Linked DNA regions of Homo sapiens: region 2 is linked to region 1. The links come from fine-mapping of genetic effects on gene expression. A gene starts in region 1. The other region holds a variant in brackets. All regions are shown on one strand. Distances are between the middles of the regions. Region 1 holds the start of CCDC71 (coiled-coil domain containing 71). Region 2 overlaps TMEM89 (transmembrane protein 89).

Region 1 (9,538 bases):
GCTCTCAGGTCATTCCCCATATTCACATCATGAATGAAAGAGTTGTCAGAGGCAAGTAGCATGTAAGGTAGTGGGGCGACAGCACAGCTGGGAGCAAGGTCCCAGAGCTTGGGAAACCAAGGGAGGACACACCCAGGGGAAGCATGCCACAAGATGCAGAAGGGGCAGGAGGGCACCAAGAAGCACAGAGCTTCTCCACAGGTCCACCACCCAGGGCAGCTGGCAGCTTGTGGGGCCCAAACCCAGAAACAGAAAACATCTGATTCTCACTGAAATGATGCCCCTACCCCAGGGAGGGGGAATGTGTGCCCCTCCCTGCCAACCCCAGGCACTGCCATTCAGCCTGGGCAGCCAGTGATGGACTACAGATGGGCAGGACAGTTACCTCCTTCAGGTCCCAGGGCCCAGCCCCCTCTCTAAAGCAGGAAGGGTGACAATGTATTTTAACATATGGACCATGTTGGAGGGCATGATGAGGCTGGACCTGGGAGTAGAGAGAGCACTTAAGATTCATACAGAAAGCACTGCTGATGAGGCAGTCATGGAAAACCTCACCCAACCAAGGAGAAAATTATTTGGTCACTGAGGGCAAGCTCTGTGGTCCTGACTCAACCACCAGTACCTTGCCACCAATCGAAGTTGAGGATAGTTACTCTCTGCCACGAGAGCAGAGTGGGGAGAAGCACCTCAACCCCTTTGGGCCTGGACCCACACCAGAAAAGCCCAGGCTAAGCCCCAAGATTTTAGCCAGGCTGTCTGTTTGGTCCCTAGGGAAGTACCACAAAGGCTCCATTCCAGGACCTAAAAACCCACTAGCTGCAAGGTTCCCCATGGAACCTACTGTCCTGCATGGGGCCTACTGTCCTGAATGGGGCCTGTCTGGATCACAAACCAGAGCAGCCTCAAAGGGAAGTGTCTTACTTCACAGTGGCTCTGCTTCTGCATTCAGGGGATGCCTCTCAGACAACCACAGAAGCCAATTTCCCCTCATCTCTCCAAAGGGGCCCAGGAGCTGCCTCCTCCCACAACCCCCGGAAATAGGCAGGCCTATTTCTGGGACCACTTTCCCTATATCTTCAAGCTGGCCTGCCAGCAGCCACACACACACAGAAGACCATGGAGGGTGGGCAGGGAGACTGGAAGGTGGAAAGGTATAAAACGTGATAGATGGAACAGTAGACATACAACTTGAATAACAAGTCACAGTGCATCGCGCCATGAAAACACCCCTCCCGCCCACCCACCCCACCGTACCCCACCCACTCTGGTTTCTGAAAGGAGGCTGGTGGTCACCAGGGCCCTAGAGAGGCACCGGGAGTCCTCAAGATTGTGGAGTCCACGGACATAGCACACTGTGCCACTAGCCACACAGACAGCTGGGCTTAGTTTCCCCAAACATTGCCGTGTGAAGGAATCAGACTGCTGAATATGGCAGCAATGGCTGGAGCCGTATTACAGGTGACAGGTTCACGCGGAGGATCCGCTGAGCCCGCTGCCGCACCTCATCATCCGAGGACCGCCTATCTACCTTTATGGCACGGAACTTCAGCAGCTTTGCTGTTCCAGGCCCTAGCCATGCCTTAGGAGATCGGGGCCCAAGCCGTGTTCTCTTCTTGGGAGGAAGATCTTTTGCCTCCTCAGCCCTTTTCCTCTTCTGCCCAACAGTCTCAGGGCGGTTTTTCTGGCCCTTCCTTGTAGTTCTGGCCTTAGCAGATCCCTTTGGCCTGCCTCTGCCCCTGGGCTGGGTCCGAGCCACCTTGGCCTTGGCCCGTACTGCCTTGGCTTTAGCCTTGGCCTTGGCCCATGCTGCCATGACTTTGGCCTTGGCCTTGACCTGTGCTGCCTTAGCTTTGGCCTTAGCCTTGACCTGTGCTGCCTTGGCCTTGGCCCGGGCCTTAGCAGCCTTGGCCTGTGTTCGAGCCACCTTGGCTTGGGCACGAGCAGCTTTGGCCAGTGTTCGAGCTACCTTGGCCTGGGCTGTTTTGGTGCCCAGGGCAGAGCCCCCTTTCATTCGCCGGACACTGGGGGACCCAGTGGCTCTGTTGGTTTTGCTCTGGTGCCCAGAGCCTCGTCGGGGTCCAGCCCCAGGGCCTTTGCGAGTCAGACACTTGGGGCCCTTGCTTGTGGTTTTTCTGGGAGCTTTGGGCCGAGGGTTCCCCGGACCCTTCCCTGAACTTTTCCGCAGTTTCAGAGGAGAGTCTGCAAGTGAGAGCTGCAGTGACTGTGCCTTGTGCTTGGCACCCAAGCAGGGCATGGGAGTCTTAAGTGGAACCAGGGCCTCAAGGACAACAGAGAGCCGCATGGCAGGGTAGACACCTGGATAAAGGTGGGTGGGGAAGCCCACTGCTGCACCCCGGGCATGGCTGGCACTTGATTGCTTCAGAGAGCTCAGCAGCAGGTTGGTGGTAGCATGCTTGGCAAGGGCTGGTGTGGATGCTTTGGCCAGTCTGCCAGATAGCGGCATGGGAAGCAGTGTGGCCCGACCTGCAGGCAACCGCATGGCAGTTCGGGGAGCACTGGCTGGAGGTGATGTGGCAGTTGGGTTAGGGGCACGAGCTTGCAGTTTCGTCTGGCTTGGGGGATTAGCTGTGCATGAACTATAGCCATAGACATCACCACTGCGCAGGATGGTAGGTTGGAAGCCATCATCTCGCAGGCCCTGCAGGAAGGCCACAAGCTGGGCCTCTGTGGCACTGAGATCCTGGCTCATTGGGTTAAAGACAAGCAGTGCCTCTTCCAGGGCCTTCTTCCCTGCCGTGGAGATGCGCGACCAGGAGTGCACAGCTTTTTCCTCCACATGCTGAACCACCACACTCATGGCATTAGGCACTGCAGATCTGCCTGGGTATCCGCAAACCAGCGCTTGGCACCTCCAAGACAAGAGGAAAAGAGTCAATAAGAATGGCACTAAGACAAGGGGCCAGAACACATAGACAAGTCAATCAGTGCCCCAATCTCCATGACACTGAGGAATCTGGCCAGAGTGAGACACTTCCTGGTGTAAAACCCTGGTCTCCTGACCCTCTACCATGCTGGGGTGGGAGGAGAGGCTAAGGATCAGGGAGTTTCTTCAAGATACATGCTCAGAAATACCTCAGAGCCATCCAACCTGCTGCCGGGTCCCTGAAAAGATTTGAGCCTGGTACATTTTAATTCAACTCTGTATTTTCTGAAGCCAGAAACCTAGAATTACTCAGCTCTGGGAATACAGGCAATATCCCTGTCCTCAAGGAACCTAGGTTAGAAGGCCAGAAAAAGACACTGTTAAGATTCTTGGGAGTGAATGCTGGCATTCAGCTCAGTTTGCCAATGGGTCAGGAAAGGATTCCTGGGAGAGACAACACCTAGCTAGGATATGAGTGATGAATGAAAAATGATTAGATGGAAATGGAACAAAAAGGGGAATAGCTAATGCAATGGCTCCAAAGTGAGAAAGGGTTAAGGCATACTTGGTGTGGGATCTGGGATCTAGGTGAAAAAACAGGCGAGGATAGAGCAACAAAGAACCCTGAATGTTAGCCAAAGGGCCCAGACTTACACCCACTGTCCATGCCCATCTGTTTCTCCAGCTGCTGCTGTTCATGTGTGGAGCTGGAGTGGGGTGGGGGAATCTCCCTGCCCACCAGAAGTTCTGTTTTCAGTCTCTAGACAGGGTACTCAGCAACCCATTTTCTAGCTCCAGAGGCATGGAGACCTAATCAAGAGTCGGACTTTTCTTCAACAGAAACTAAAAAGCTGATGAGTAGCAGGTGCCAATGACATCTCTCTAGGCAACCAGGCAGACCAGGGACCAGGAAGCCAGACCAAGATCCCAAAGTTTAAGGACAATGGGAGCCAAAGGCTGCAAGTAGGATGGTGAGTCAAGGGGACATTAGCGGTATGCACTGTCCTACCTAAGACTTGGAGGGCCACAGACCTCAGTACAGCCCAGATGGAGGTGACTGAGAACACCTAACTACTCCCAGACTTCTTTAAAGAAGCTGTGGACATCAATCATAACTAACATCTAATACCCAACCCAACACTGAGGGTTCCCAGAAGCAAGAGGCAGCTCCCCAGCTGCACCAGAGCATTAAAAGATCAGCCAGGATCAGGCAGGTCCCTCGGGCCATGAGGCCCGTCTGTGTAGTTTCTTCCCACCGCTCTAATGCAGCAGATGAAGTCTTCAGAATACCCTGGAGGAAATGCCCTAGGGCTCTTTGTTTGGAAACATTCTTGGATCCTCAGGTGTCTTGGGCACTTCCCCTCCCCAGAGACCGTTCTCCAAGCACAATCCTTGCACATGACTTTAGTTCTTTATTAATGTTTTTTGAAGGGATGTAGTTCCCAGAGCTGTGAACTGTAGAAGAGAGAGGGACCTATTTCCCACCCTCACACGCGCCCCAGCGCAAATATTTGGGGTGACCTGGGGGCTCTTCCACCCAGGTTAGGCTGGGCTCTTGGGAGGGGTTTTCTGGGCTTTCGAGAAGCTTCGGAAACAGAGGCTCCTGCCCGGCCTCCGACTTCCCTTCACACGTGCCCCCGGGGAAGGCAGGAGAAGTTGACGGAAGATAGGGCGTGAGAGAGGCGCCACACAGGCAGACCGGGGGAGGGGGCAGATCGGGGCCCTCAGGCTGGGAATGCACGTCCTTAGGGCCCAAGCCGTGAGGCGGGGGTCACTGAGGCAGCGAAATGTACAGGGTGAACGGTGCTAGCCCTACCGGGACCGCACAGCCCCAGGGTGGGGTCGCTGGGCGCGGGGTGGGGGTGGGGTGGGGGGTCTCGGCCAGGCCGGCGGAGGACGCGGGTCCGGGAAGAGTTGGCCGCTTGCCCGTCCGCCCTGCCGCCTCGCGGGCCGCCCCTCCGCGGCGCGGCTAGGCCCGCGGCTCCAACCTACCGGCGCCGCCGCGGGGACCCAAGACGCGCCTCTGCGCCGCCTCCGCTGCTCCAACATGGCCGCCCGCTGCGCGCCGGAAGTGCACTGCGCTTCCGCTTCCGGGACCCAGCCCGCCCTACCGACCCTTGACCCCTGAGACCCCATTTCCCCACAAAGTCTGGGGGCGGAGCAGATTGGGTACCAAGGAGGACTGCCTGGAGGTGGTGGCCGCGGTGACTGCTCCAAACCCGTTCGGCCCTGTGCAGAAGTCTGAAGAACAGAGGTGCCCTCTGACGCGGCCCCAGGCAAGGACTCACTAGAGCCCGGCCAAGACTGGATTAGGGGTCATCTGACACCTTTTCTGAGGGGAGCTAGTGGTGCATTGACATCTGGGAGGGGCTCCTGACAAGGTTCAGGCCATCTTCCACCCTCTGATCTATCTTTAGCCACTGACAATGCCCACTTCAGTCCCAGACACCTGACCAGAGGGTGAAAGAGGAGTGCCTCCTGACAGGGAGTCTCAGGTGATCTCCTTTGTTTTGCAGTAAGGGTATCTTCTCCGAGGACAGCAGGCCTTCCTCTCTTCCTGAGAATAGGGCCTGTGGCACATGGCATGAAAGGCTGGTGTGCACGTGATCACAAGTGGTGCACGCAAGCCCAAGCGCACATGGAGTCTGGGGGCTCCAGTATACCACTGTGGGCCTGAGTATACTTGCTCAGGCAGGTGGGGGCAGGTATAGTCACTGGCCCAGCCTCAGCCCCTCAATGGAAGGAAGTCCTGCTTCCAGTCTTAACACTGCCCAGAACCCCTTTCCTTTTGCCTAGGAGTCTGGGACCTCAGTCTTTTTATCCATGCTCTTGGGCTAGTACGGGGTGGTGGTTATAGGACACAGGTCAAAATCAACCCTAGGGGTCTGTGACTTCAGTGAGAGGTCAGAGTGGTCTCCACAGCTCTGACCAAAGGTCCCATTAGTCAGAGGTTTGCAAGTCCAGGTTGGGAACCATCCTGGGAGCCCTGGTTTCATGGATGAGGTAGTGGGGGCATTTGCACTAGGGTCAGAGCCTGAGCCAGGAGGCAGAAATATTGCCACAACTCTTGGACTCTGACCCTTGCAGTGGTGCCTTATTTGGTAGTTGGGGTCAGGTGGAAGCCTATTGGCAATCACAGGAGGGTGGCGGGATGCTTCATTTAGGGACTGGGTACTAGCCCTTTTTCCTGCCCTTTTTCCAACCAGGATCCTCTGGTTGCTCTGTATTTTCCCTGCTTATACAGAGGGGTCCAGGCACTCCTAAAGACAAGTGCCTAGTCCACCCAGCAGTGCCATAGGCCTCATCTGGTGCCTCTTAGCTTCCCAGGGCCTCAGCACTAATGGTGAGGTCCTCGCTGCTTTTAAGTATAGCCAAGGTATCTAGCAGGAACTGCAAAATCTCCTGTTCCTCTGGGGTCAGTGCTTCTAGCCTTTTTTTCCTGGTGGAGAGAAAGCAAGAGTAGGGTCCCAGGGGCCAGGATCTCATGGGGTGCAGTCAGGAAGCCCCACCTTGGTGCCCCCAGTCCCCAGCTGTGGGTGAGTCCAGTCTCTGGCCGTCCATGGTTGAAGATTGACTGTTCACTTATTCAGGACCGATTCAACCAGTTACCTTCTGCAGCTTCTCCAAAGCCGGCAGTGTTGGCCTCCTGTGTGCAGGTGGGCCATGGCTGTGCAAACAGAAACCCCTTCCATGGAGAGCCAGAGCCCATCCTCCAGGGATAGCAACAGTACAGTTATATCCAGACCCCTCTCTGGTGATGTTCAGCTCAGAAGTTAGGGCAAATGGAAAACCAGGAAGGGTAGGTCCATCCTCCGGCTGTGCTGTGTCCCTTCCAGACATGAGAACTGGGGAAATGATAGAGATTAGGGATAAGGATCATGGGGGTACCTAGCTCCCTTTGGGGGTGGTAGGGCCGAACTTTTTGCCTCCTGGTGCCCAGTATGCCCTAGATGGAACTCTTTGGGAGCGCTCATCAGAGTGCAGTCTGACTTGACCTGGACTCTAGTGGCTGCTGAGCCTACAGGCACAACTGGGACCAGACAGGATGAGATGGGAGAGAACACAGGGTGATCCCAGGACCCAATCTTTGCTTTCCATTTGGCATCTTATATGGTTCTTTTTTTCCTTCTTCTTCCTTTTTTTTTTTTTTTTTTTTTTTTTTGAGACAGTCTCCTTTGTTGCCCAGGCTGGAGTGCAGTGGCGTGATCTCAGCTCACTGCAACCTCTGCCTCCCAGGTTCAAGCAATTCTCCTACCTCAGCCTCCAGAGTAGCTGGGACTACAGGCGCCTGCCATCACACCTGGCTAATTTTTGTATTTTTAGTAGAGGTGGGGTTTCACCATGTTGGCCAGGCTGGTCTCAAGCTCCTGACCTCAAATGATCCACCCACCTTGGCCTCCCAAAGTGCTGGGATTACAGGCGTGAGCCACTGTGCCTGGCCAATTTTTTGTATTTTTAGTCAAGCTGGGGTTTCACCATGTTGGCCAGGCTGGTCTTGAACTCCTGACCTCAGGTGATCTGCCCACCTCAGCCTCCCAAAGTGCTAGTATTACACGTGTGAGCCACCTGCCCCTCCAGCCTTATATGGTTCTCAGTGGATCCTGGACCCAGCTCTATCTGAGCAGAGAGATGTGATGGAGCTTTAGATGTGAATGAAGGCAGTGGCCTGGGAGGGACTGCCCCAAGAGGAAATATGTGTGCCAGGGAGAAAAGCCAGGGTTGAATCTTGAGGAGCCAATTCCTGGTGATGGAGAAGAAGCAGAGCCTGCAAAAGATTCTAGGCCAGGCGCGGTGACTCATGCCTGTAATTCCAGCACTTTGGGAGGCCAAGGCGGACGGATCCCGCAGTCAAGAGATGGAGACCATCCTGGCCAACATGGTGAAACCCCATGTCTACTAAAAATACAAAAAATTAGCTGGGCATGGTGGCACGTGCCTGTAGTCCCAGCTACTCGGGAGGCTGAGGCAGGAGAATCATTTGAAACCACCGGAAGGCGGAGGTGGCAGTAAGCTGAGATCACGCCACTGCACCCTAGCCTGGGCAACAAGAGTGAAACTCCGTTTCAAAAAAAAGATTTTGAGAGGTGGGCTGGGCGCGGTGGCTCATGCCTGTAATCCCAGCACTTTGGGAGGCTGAGGTGGGCGGATCACGAGGTCAGGAGATCGAGACCATCCTGGCTAACACGGTGAAACTCCATCTCTACTAGAAATACAAAAAAAAAAAAATTAGCCGGGCATGGTGGCGGGCCCCTGTAGTCCCAGCTACTCGGGAGGCTTAGACAGGAGAATGGCATGAACCTGGGAGGCGGAGCTTGCAGTGAGTGGAGATGGCACCACTGCACTCCAGCCTGAGTGACAGAGCAAGACTCCGTCTCAAAAAAAAAATAAATAGATAAAAAATAAAGATTCTCAGAGGCAGGACAAACAGCAGGAGGGAGTTGAGGTCACAAGGGGCAAAACTTTGAAGATGCTAGCAAGATTTAGTTAAGGACCACAGGCACATATAGTTTTAGCTATATGGTATTTCATGATGACTTTTCCAAGAACAATTTTTGGGGAGGAGTGGCAGCACATTGAGGTGACAAGTAACAAGGAGGTGGAGCCTGTGAGGACAGATGGCTTCAAGAGTTTGACTGGAGTGGAGGAAGGGGAGACTAGAGAGACTTGGGGTGTTGGGAGGTATCTAAAGGCAAGTGGCTTGTAAGTGTTTAATTGCTGGAAAGGAGGAGGAGGGAGCTTGGAAAGGGAACAGTAGCAAATGTGAAGGGGGCTGCAGAGCAGTGTGAGCCTCTTGGAAGCCTATTGGCAATCACAAGAGGGTGGAAACAGTGCCCCAAGTGAGGGCACTGAGGAGCAAGTCCAAGGTGAAGTGGGACAAGGAGGATTGAGGCCTTCAAGTCAGGGTCTGTGCAGTCTGTAACCAGCCTTGGCACCACCATTTCTGTGCAGGCCGACTGAATCCAACTGACAGTCCCTGAAAAGAGCAAAGGCTCTCTTCTCCGGTCATGCGGGAGGGTCTACCCATAGACTTCTGGGAAGGCCAGATGTGAGGGAGGCCAGGGAGTTAATAGGTAATGCCCCCAAACAGCTCTCAACCCATGACTAATGGAGATTTGAGAATGAGTATCTCAGCTCCCCTTGTTCTTGGGGGCAGCAATGATGTAAGGCCTATGTTCTACGCTGGCTCCCAGAATCCCCAGCAGGATTTGGTCCCAATGGCCCACAGTGGTAGCTTGCTTGATGACACTTCCTTTATTGGCTGCTTTCCTTGTCTCCTTGCCACTGCTGGTGTTTCTTGGCCTCACCTCCCATACTAACTATATGCATGTATATCTTTGTCCAGGTCTGCTTTGGGGGAAACTAAGATAAGCACTGTCCATGAAAGGGGGACAAGGCAGTGAGCAGACACAGACAACTGCAAGGACCTCTTCCCACAGGTACCACTGACCTGTACAAATGGGCCCTCAGCTTGAAGACTTAGCTAATACTCTGAATGCTCAGAAGATAGGCAGGGCCAAGGTCTGGGCCTGAGGTAGGTGGGCCCCTGTCACACTAGTTTGCTCTTGCTTGACCCCAGAATTGGTTAGAGGCAAGCTCAGGATACTAAAAATTGATAGTTATAATGTGCCTTGGGTCCCAGAGTAGCCCAGGTCT
Region 2 (9,538 bases), 550 kb before region 1:
GGGTGGCTCACGAGGTCAGAAGATCAAGACCATCCTGGCCAACACAGTAAAACCCCGTCTCTACTAAAAATACAAAAATTAGCTGGGCGTGGTGGCGTATGCCTGTAGTCCCAGCTACTCAGGAGGGTGAGGAAGGAGAATCACTTGAAACCGGGAAGCGGAGGTTGCAGTGAGCCAAGATCGCACCACTGCACTCCAGCCTGGGCTACAGAGGGAGACTCCATCTCAAAAAAAAAAAAAAAAAAGAAAAGAAATACAATTAGCACCATATGTCAAAATGAAGGATACAAAAGCACTCAGTGCACAGGTTCCATAAACCAACTGAAGCCAGTCCCTGGTCAGTGGTCTCTTATTAGGAAAAAGTCACCAAAATCCATCTCTTGTGCAATCAAAGCTATAGTTATGGCTTGTGGGGTCAGTGTCTGGTGATGGATGAACTGCAATTGTTTCTATATTGCTTATCTCAAGGCCAGTGCTTGTTTAGCTGCTGGAGAAAAAGAAAAACCTTGCAGCAGTTAGAACATAGTTTATTCTTTGGTGAACGGCTTAACTCTTGCCTGGCATGGCCTTAATGTCTTGTTTATACTTTGGTATCTTATTGCTACAAAGGGTTCATTCTCTCAGTCTTATGATCTCTATTTTTTTCTTTCTTTTTTGAGACAGAGTCTCATTCTGTCACCCAGGCTGGAGTGCAGTGGCAGGATCTCTGCTCACTGCAACCTCCATCTCCCAGGTTCAAGCAATTCTCCTGCCTCGGCCTCCCGAGTAGCTGGAACTGCAGGCACATGCCAACATCGCTAATTTTTGACAGAGTCTCATTCTGTCACCCAGGCTGAAGTGCAGTGGCGTGATCTTGGCTCACTGCAACCTCAGCCTCCTGGATTCAAGCAATTCTCCTGCCTCAGCCTTCCAAGTAGCTGGGACGCCACACGCCACCATGCCCTGGCTCAAGTGATCCTTCTACCTCAGGCTCCTGAGTAGCTGGGAACACAGGTGCACACCATCATACCCAGCTAACTTTTATATTTTTTGTAGAGACAGGATTTCACTATGTGGCCCAGGCTGGTCTCAAACTCCAGGCTCAAGTGAGCCTCCTGCCTTGGCCTCCCAAAGTGCTGGGACTACAGATGTGAGCCACCGCCCCTGGACGTGATCTCTTTTTTTTTTTTTTTTGAGATGGAGTCTCGCTCTGTTGCCAGGCTGGAGTGCAGTGGCATGATCTTGGCTCACTGCAACATCCGCCTCCTGGGTTCAAGCGATTCTCCTGCCTCAGGCTCCCAAGTAGCTGGGACTAAGGCATGTGCCACCACACCCAGCTAATTTTTGTAGTTTTAGTAGAGATGGGATTTCACCATGTTGGCCAGGATGGTCTCGATCTCTTGACCTCGTGATCTGCCAAAGTGCTGGGATTACAGGCATGAGCTACCACGCCCGACCTTTTTTATTTTTGAGACCGAGTTTCGCTCTTGTTGCCCAGGTTGGAGTGCAATGGCGCAATCTTATCAGCAACCTCTGCCTCCCGGGTTCAAGCGATGCTCATGCCTCAGTCTCCCGAGTAGCTGGGACTACAGGCATGTGCCATCACGCCTAGCTAATTTTGTATTTTTAGTAGAGATGGGGTTTCTCCATGTTAGTCAGGCTGGTCTCAAACTCCCAACCTCAGGTGATCCACCCACCTTGGCCTCCCAAAGTGCTGGGATTACAGGTGTGAGCCACCGCACCCGGCCTGCCTGCTTCCTTTCCTTCCTTCCTTCCTTCCCTCCCTCCTTCCTTTCCTTCCTTCCTTCCTCCCTTCCTTTCTCTCTCTTTCTTTTTTTTTTTTGAGAGGGTCTGGCTTTCTGTCACTCAGGCTGGAATGCAGTGGTGTGATCATGGCTCACTGCAGCCTCAACCTTCCAGCTCAAGCCATCTTCCCACTCCAGCCTCCTGAGTAGCTGGAACTATATAGGCATGCACCATCACACCCAGCTAATTTTTAAAAACATTTTTCTAGAGATGGGGTCTCACTATATTCCCCAGTCTGGTCTTGAACTCCTAGGCTCAAGTGATCCTCCCACCTCAGCCTCCCAAATGAAATATTCCTAAACCCAGTCACCTAGCCTCCCTACCTATACCCACTGCTACCCTGGGCTAAGAAGGGAAGGCCATTGAAGTAGGAGACAACTAGGAAGTCTGATGCTGGTTGGGAACGATGCGTTTCAAGGGGTTGGTCAAAACAGGAAATATTACTAAAAGGTTAAGTGCAAGCAGTGATCATTGCAATAATTTTGCAACAGTGTTTGGTGACTCATTGATTCTCTGGAATTTACTTGGTATATAGAGTGAGGTAAGGTCAAAATATCCTCTCTCCCCCTAAAAGGCAAACTAAATTTTGTAACACCGTTTCTTGATGAGGCCCTGTTTCCCTACCCATCTCTGTTGTTCCCTCTATCATCCCATAGATTCTCAAACTTGTACCAGGTCCATGCAGGCTGTGTTCTGTAGGGAGGGCTCTGGCACTCAACTTACCCTTCTTACTCTGTTTGATACATTCACCTATTTATTCTTCTAGATGTTTCTTTTTATTTTTTAAATTTACTTTTAATTTTTTTAAATAGAGATGGGATTTTGCCACATTACCCAGCTTGGTCTCGAACTCCTGGGCTCAAGTGATTCTCCTGCCTTGGTCTCACAAAGTGCTGGGATTACAGGCATGAGCCACTGCACGCAGCTTTTTTTTTTTTTTTTTTTTTGAGACGGAGTTTGCTCTTGTTGCTCAGGTTGGATGGAGTGCAGTGGTGTGATCTAGGCTCACTGCAACCTCCACCTCCTGGTTCAAGCAAGTCTCATGCCTCAGCCTCCCAAGTAGCTGGGATTACAGGGGCCTGTCTCCATGCACAGATAGTTTTTGTATTTTTAGTAGAGACAAGGTTTCACCATCTTGACCAGGCTGGTCTCGAACTCCTGACCTCAGGTGATCCGCCCACCTCAGCCTCCCAAAGTCCTGGGATTACAGGCGTGAGCCACCACGCCTGCCTGTTCTATTCATTATTGAAAGTGGGGGGTTGAAATATGAACTATAATTGTAGAGCTGACTACTTTCAATTCTGATAATTTTTGTTTCATTATTTTTGGGGCTCCGTTAGGCACATAAATGTTTCTAATTGTCATATTGCCTTGTTTTGAAACTTTTATTAGGTGGGTGGATCACCTCAGGTCAGGAGTTCAAGACCAGCCTGACCAACATGGATAAACCCCGTCTCTACTAAAAATACAAAATTAGTAGGGCATGGTGGCGCATGCCTGTAATCCCAGCTACTCAGGAGGCTGAGGCAGGAGAATTGCTTGAACCCGGGAGGCAGAGGCTGTGGTGAGCCAAGATCATGCCATTGCACTCCAGCCTGGGCAACAAGAGCGAAACTCTGTCTCAAAAAAAAAAAAAGGCTGGGCGCAGTGGCTTACGCCTGTAATCCCAGCACTTTGGGAGGCCAAGGCAGGAAGATCACGAGGTCAGGAGACAGAGACCATCCTGGCTAACACAGTGAAACCCCGTCTCTACTAAAAATACAAAAAAAATGCCGGGCGCGGTGGCTCACGCCTGTAATCCCAGCACTTTGGGAGGCCGAGGCGGGCGGATCACGAGGTCAGGAGATCGAGACCATCCCGGCTAAAACGGTGAAACCCCGTCTCTACTAAAAATACAAAAAATTAGCCGGGCGTAGTGGCGGGCGCCTGTAGTCCCAGCTACTTGGGAGGCTGAGGCAGGAGAATGGCGTGAACCCGGGAGGCAGAGCTTGCAGTGAGCCGAGATCCCGCCACTGCACTCCAGCCTGGGCGACAGAGCGAGACTCCGTCTCAAAAAAAAAAAAAAAAAAAAAAAAGTACAAAAAAAATTAGCTGGGTATGGTGGCAGACACCTGTAGTCCCGGCTACTCAGGAAGCCGAGGCTGGAGAATGGCATGAACCCAGGAGGCAGAGGTTGCAGTGAGCCGAGATTGCGCCACTGCACTCCTGCCTAGGCGACAAAGTGAGACTCCGTCTCAAAAAAAAAAAGCAATTTTTATCAATAGATAACGTCCTTCTTTGTCTCTTGTAATCTTTTTGATTTAGAGGCTACTATACCTGACAATAATAAAGCCACCTTGACTCTCTTCTGGTTGCTATTTGCATGAAGTATTTTTTTTTCTTTTTCTTTTTCTTTTTTTCTTTCTTGAAACAGAGTCTCACTCTGTTGCCCCAGGCTAGAGTGCAGTGGTGTGATCATGACTCACTGCAGCTTTGACCTTCCTGAGATCAGGTGATCCTCCCACCTCAGCCTCCGGGGTAGCTGGGACTAAAGGTGCACACCACCATGCCCAGCTAATTTTTTGTGTTTTTTGTAGAAATGGGGTTTTGCCTTGTTGCCCAGGCTGGTCTCAAACTCTTTAAGCAATCCACCTGCCTCAGCCTCCCAAAGTGCTGGGATTACAGGTGTAAGCCACCATGCCAGGCCATAAAATATTTCTTCCATCCTTTTACTTCTGGTGTTTTTATGTTCTTATATCTGAAGTGAGTCTCTGATAGACAACATATAGATTAACCTTTTTTAAAAAACCAATCTGAAAATTCATTTATTAATAGGAGAGTTTAATCTATTTATATTTAATGAGATTACTGACAAATGATTTGCTTTCAGGTTCAGAATTTGTTTGGTCCCTTTAAAATTTTTCTCTGTATTAATTTTTTTTTTTTTTTTTTTTTTGAGACAGAGTCTTGCTCTTTCACCCAGGCCACAGTGCAGTGGCACTCTTGGCTCGCTGCAAGCTCTGCCTCCCCAGTTCATGCCATTCTCCTGCCTCAGCCTCCCGAGTAGCTGGGACTACAGGTGCCCACCACTGTGCCCGGCTAATTTTTTGTATTTTTAGTAGAGATGGGGTTTCACTGTGTTAGCCAGGATGGTCTTGATCTCCTGACCTCGTGATCCACCCACCTAGGCCTCCCAAAGTGCTGGGATTACAGGCATGAGCCACCGCGCCCGGCCCTCTTTATTAGTATTCTTTATGTTCAGACATAATTTTCCTAATTTCCTTTAGTTCTTTGTCCATGGCTTCCCTTAGTTCATTGAACATACTAAGACAGTTGATTTATTGTTTTTGATTAATAATTCCAATGCCTGGGCTTCCTGAGGGATACTTCCCATCACAATCTCTTTTTCAGCCAGGTGCAGTGGCTCATGCCTATGATCTCAGAACTTTGGGAGGCTGAGGTGGGAGAGTCATTTGAGTTCAGGAGTTTGAGACCAGGGCAACATAGTGAGACCCTGTCTCTCTTTTGACTCCAGCCCACTTCCCCTCACTTGGAGGACATCAGAGAGGCTGTGGCATTTTCGGGGTCCAGCCAAAGGGAAGGTGGGTTGAAGATGGTCCCAGGTTGGGTTCTCTAGGAATCCAACTCCAAGAGGAAGATCAGAGCACAAGATATTTACAAGAGTCCCTTGAGA[T/C]GAGCACCTCAGGGAAGGAGGGAAAGGGTTGGGCAAGGAAGAAGTCTGGCTATAGGGGCTCTGCCACAGCCAGAGTGGACCTGTCTGCTGGCCGTCCCCTGAGTGGCTGGCAGCAGCTGGCCTTTGTGTGGCATATCTCTGAGTCTACCACAGGGACACACTGGGTGTTATAAGTAAAATGTTTATTCAGAAACAGAATGCTGTTCTTCAGTACCGCAAGGAAAAATTAGCATTGAGACAAAAAGTTTTCTCAGCAAGGCAAATTTACTTTCTGCAGAAAGGGTGCTCCTTGCAGATGAAACAATGGTGAGAGCACACTTGAACAAAGGAGGGAAGCAATTTTTATTCTTTATGCAGCTTGTCCTTGCTACTGTGTCCTGCCTCCATTGGCTGGAGACGGACTGCACAATCTAAGCTAAACTTGACCGGCTAATAACTTAAAATTTTCTTAAATAGGTAAAGGCAAGGGAGAACAAAGGAAAAGAGGAAATTGCTTACGAAAGGACTTAGAAGGACTTAGAAAAGTAATAACATTTCTTTTTTTCTTTTTTTTCTTTTTTGAGATGGAGTCTTGCTCTGTCGCCCAGGCTGGAGTGCAATGGCATGATCTCGGCTCACTGCAAGCTCTGCCATGGGTTCACGCCATTCTTCTGCCTCAGCTTCCGGAGTAGCTGGGACTACAGGCACCCACCACCATGCCTGGCTAATCTTTTTTGCATTTTTGGTAGAGGCGGGGTTTCACTGTGTTAACCAGGATGGTCTTGATCTCCTGACCTCATGATCTGCCCGCCTCAGCCTCCCAAAGTGCTGGGATAACAGGCGTGAGTCACTGCACCCAGCCAAAAGTAATAACATTTCGAAATAAGGAAGGCACATAGGCTGCAAGCTGGAATGTGCCTGTGAGCATGTCCAGCACAAATATTTTGGTTAAAGTACAAGGACACAGAATGTACTTATTTCTTTATATCTAACAGCTACATAAGATAGGGCTTAACAAAGAGTTATTAGCACAAAGTGAGGAGGCTTAAAGGAAGTTAGTCTTTAAAAGAAACTATTATTTGTAACACTTATAATTTATTCTTTAACAAGAAGGGAAACTTTGAAGAGGAACTTTTTTTTTTTTACTTTCTACACCAGGTTAAGAGGGACATATTTATGTGGTTTGCTCCACCCTTGTGTAAAGTTAGTTTATTGGTCTTGTTCTAGAATAAACTAGGAATGTGGCTCGTAGGAAAATCCTGCTGGGTAAGGACAGAAGTGCAAAGTCCTATTGCCTTAAGGACATGCCCCACGGCACCCAGTGCTGGGAAAACTGTGAGCCATGGAAGGAAAACAAGGTTTGAAATGCGTGGAGCCAGAACCTCGTCTGTGGAAAATTCTTCCAAATTTCATAGTTCCTATATGAAAGAAGGCTGATGACAGTTTCTCAAATTTTACAACAATCCAGAACATTTGTATGGCACCGTCAACAACAGATTAGGAAGTTTAACTTTCCTAAACTACCAATAATTAAAACACAAATTTCAACCATGTTAGGAGGAAGACTGAAGTATCTTTTCTCTGTATGGAAAATATCTCCCCCAAAAATCACAAAATCCTTGTCCTCTGTAGAGGCCTTCAGAGTAAGAAGCCAGACCATGTAGGGGACCAAGGTATTAGAAATATGTCAGGAAGTTGCCACAAGTTATGTTATTTTTCTGGATTTAGTATTGTAGTATTTGTCAATTTAAAAAAAAAGTTTTCAAAAAAAAGTATCATCATTTCTTTTCTCATTATTTTAATTCACTTCCATTTTTGAATTCATAACGTTGTTGCCTTTTTCTAAAGCAGGAACCTGGGACAGGCACTGTGGCTCATACCTGTCATCCCAGCACTTTGAGAGGCAGAGGCAAGAGGATCAGTTGAAGCCAGCCTGGGCAAGATAGACTCCATCTCTACAAATATATATATATTTTTTAATTAGCTGGGTATGGTGATGTATGCCTATAGTCTCAGCTACTTGGGAGGCCAAGGCAGGAGGATTGCTTGAGTTCGTCAAAAAAACAAAAAGAAACAATTTTTAAAAAGGGGAAAAAGAAAGAGAAAGGGATTAAAGTGAGGGTCCCTTCTTTTCCAGGGTCCTTAGAGCAAGGGCGGCTGAGGCACTAGAGCATGTTTGAGACTGCCATAGAAACAAAGGCAGCTAGGGCGGCCTGCCTGACCCCAGGTTGGGGCTGCTGGAGCCAAGAATCTGGGGAGGGGCTGTTATTGGAGACAGAGCAGTGGCCTCTCAAGGGAGGGCCTTGCAGGGCCTGGGAAGAAGGAAGCCAGAGCCAGCTGCTGTTTGATGGCAGGACTAAAGTCACCTCCCTGAGGTGGTGACAAGGATGGGTGAAGCCAAAGGGTGTGCGACTCCACAGTGATGGGGGCTTGGGGCTCTCAGTCCCCCATCAGAGATCCTCAGCATCTGGTTCCAGCTTCACCACTGCCCCCACCCCTCTTCTCAGCTGACCAGGTCCCTCCTCAGCTCACCCTGTGCACTGGAGAGGCCCAGTACCCTCACTCAGCACTTGAGGCCCTTTATCATGTGCACTGCCCACCTTGCCCATGTGCAGAGAGTACCAAACACAGCACGTGGCTTTTGCTCAGAACCAGACCGCCACCTGGATTTCCCTTCCTCACACCCATTTCCCCTCAGGGCTCAGCCAGGTTGTTGGCTCCTCTGGGCAACCCTTCCTGAGCCACCCAAGCCTGTCCCGTTGGTAAGTCCTCTCCCATCACACAGGGAGTCCCCAGGTACTGGTCAGGCCAGAGGAGCAGTTTTTGTTTGTTTTGAGACAAGTTCTTGCTCTGTCACCCAGGCTGGAGTACAGTGGCACAATCTTGGCTCACTGCAACCACTGCCTGCCAGGCTCAAGCCATCCTCCCACCTCAGCTTCCTGAGTAGTTGGTACTACAGGCACACACCACTATGTGTGTGCTCAGCTAATTTTTGTTTGTTTGTTTGTATTTTTCGTAGGGATGGGGTTGCCATGTTGCCCAGGCTGGTCTCGAACTCTTGAGCTCAAATGATCCTCCCACCTCGGCCTCTCAAAGCGCTGGGATTACGGGTGTGAGCCACCACGCCCAGCCCAGAGGAGCAGTTGTGTCTCCAGGAGGGATCCTTAGGGAGGAAAGGTCAGTTGGTGGGGGCAATGGAGCAGTGTGAGCCAGCCTATGCCCCACCTGCCCGCCCGTCCTGGACACCAAGTCAGCTGACTCTAAAAGCTGAAAAGGGACACACGGTCCAGACAGGCCTGGAAAGAGCAGACCTGGCCCAGGACCTCAGGCTGTCAGGCAAAGAGAGGCACATGTTCGGTCACCCACTCTGGGTGGAAGTCCCCTTTATTTGGATTTGCCGCTGGGTGGCTAGATGACGTAGGTGGCCTTCGATGTGGACCAGGAGGGCATCCAGCATGTGCAGGACCCCACGGAGCAGGGTGTGGTCTGAGATTGGGGCCCGCCGTTTCCAGGGTCCGCAGGGCTCAGTGGTCACCTGCGGATGCTGAGACCAGGACCAAGAGGCAGGAGTGAGAATGGTGGGCAGAGAGGGAGATGTGACAAGGGGCAGTGATGGAGCTGGGGAGCAGGGAGTAGGGTGTGGGGCAGTGCCCAGATGGGATGGGAGGGAGACTCAGGGTGATAGAGGATCACCGAGGGTCTGTTGTGGGCTACAGTGGTCATGGGGCCCACAGGGGCTGGATGAGAGCAGGGGTACTAAAGGGGAGAGTTGGGGGCAGGGTGCTGGCTGTGGGTGGTGGACATGGGTTCCACGAAGGTGTGTGGACACAGGGACAATGGGCTGTGAGCTGGGGGTGGGGGTGTGGGAGGTCCACAGGCCAGTGTGGACCCATGGGGCAGGGTTGGGTGGAAGACGGGCTCACTGAGCGTACGTATATTGAGGCAGGGGCTGTGGGGGAGAAAGAAGAGCTGTGCTCACCTCACCCTTGGTGGCCTGTGAGCGCCGCCGCCCCTGCAGTATCTTGCGGCAGATCATCAGCATCGTGGTGGTGATCATGACCGCAGCCACGGGGTAGATGCGGCTTGCTCCAGGGCCCAGCC

What was found.
Region 2: its variant is fine-mapped to the expression of CCDC71 in whole blood (TOPMed, PIP above 0.99).

Annotation. Positions count from the first base shown.
Region 1 is chr3:49,161,391-49,170,928 of GRCh38, forward strand. CCDC71 (coiled-coil domain containing 71) reads right to left here and starts at 4,941. Exons shown (of 2, transcript NM_022903.4): 1 at 4,877-4,941; 2 at 1,145-2,870. The coding sequence starts at 2,818. The coding sequence ends at 1,415. RefSeq lists enhancers at 1,967-2,467, 5,013-5,082, 5,103-5,222 and silencers at 4,703-4,762, 4,783-4,862.
Region 2 is chr3:48,612,047-48,621,584 of GRCh38, forward strand. TMEM89 (transmembrane protein 89) reads right to left here. Exons shown (of 2, transcript NM_001008269.3): 1 at 9,417-9,538; 2 at 8,713-8,981. The coding sequence ends at 8,796. Among named protein-coding and RNA genes, the nearest start is that of TMEM89, 5.0 kb to the right of the region's middle. RefSeq lists an enhancer at 1,700-2,199. The variant T/C (reference allele first, on the strand shown) is at 5,459.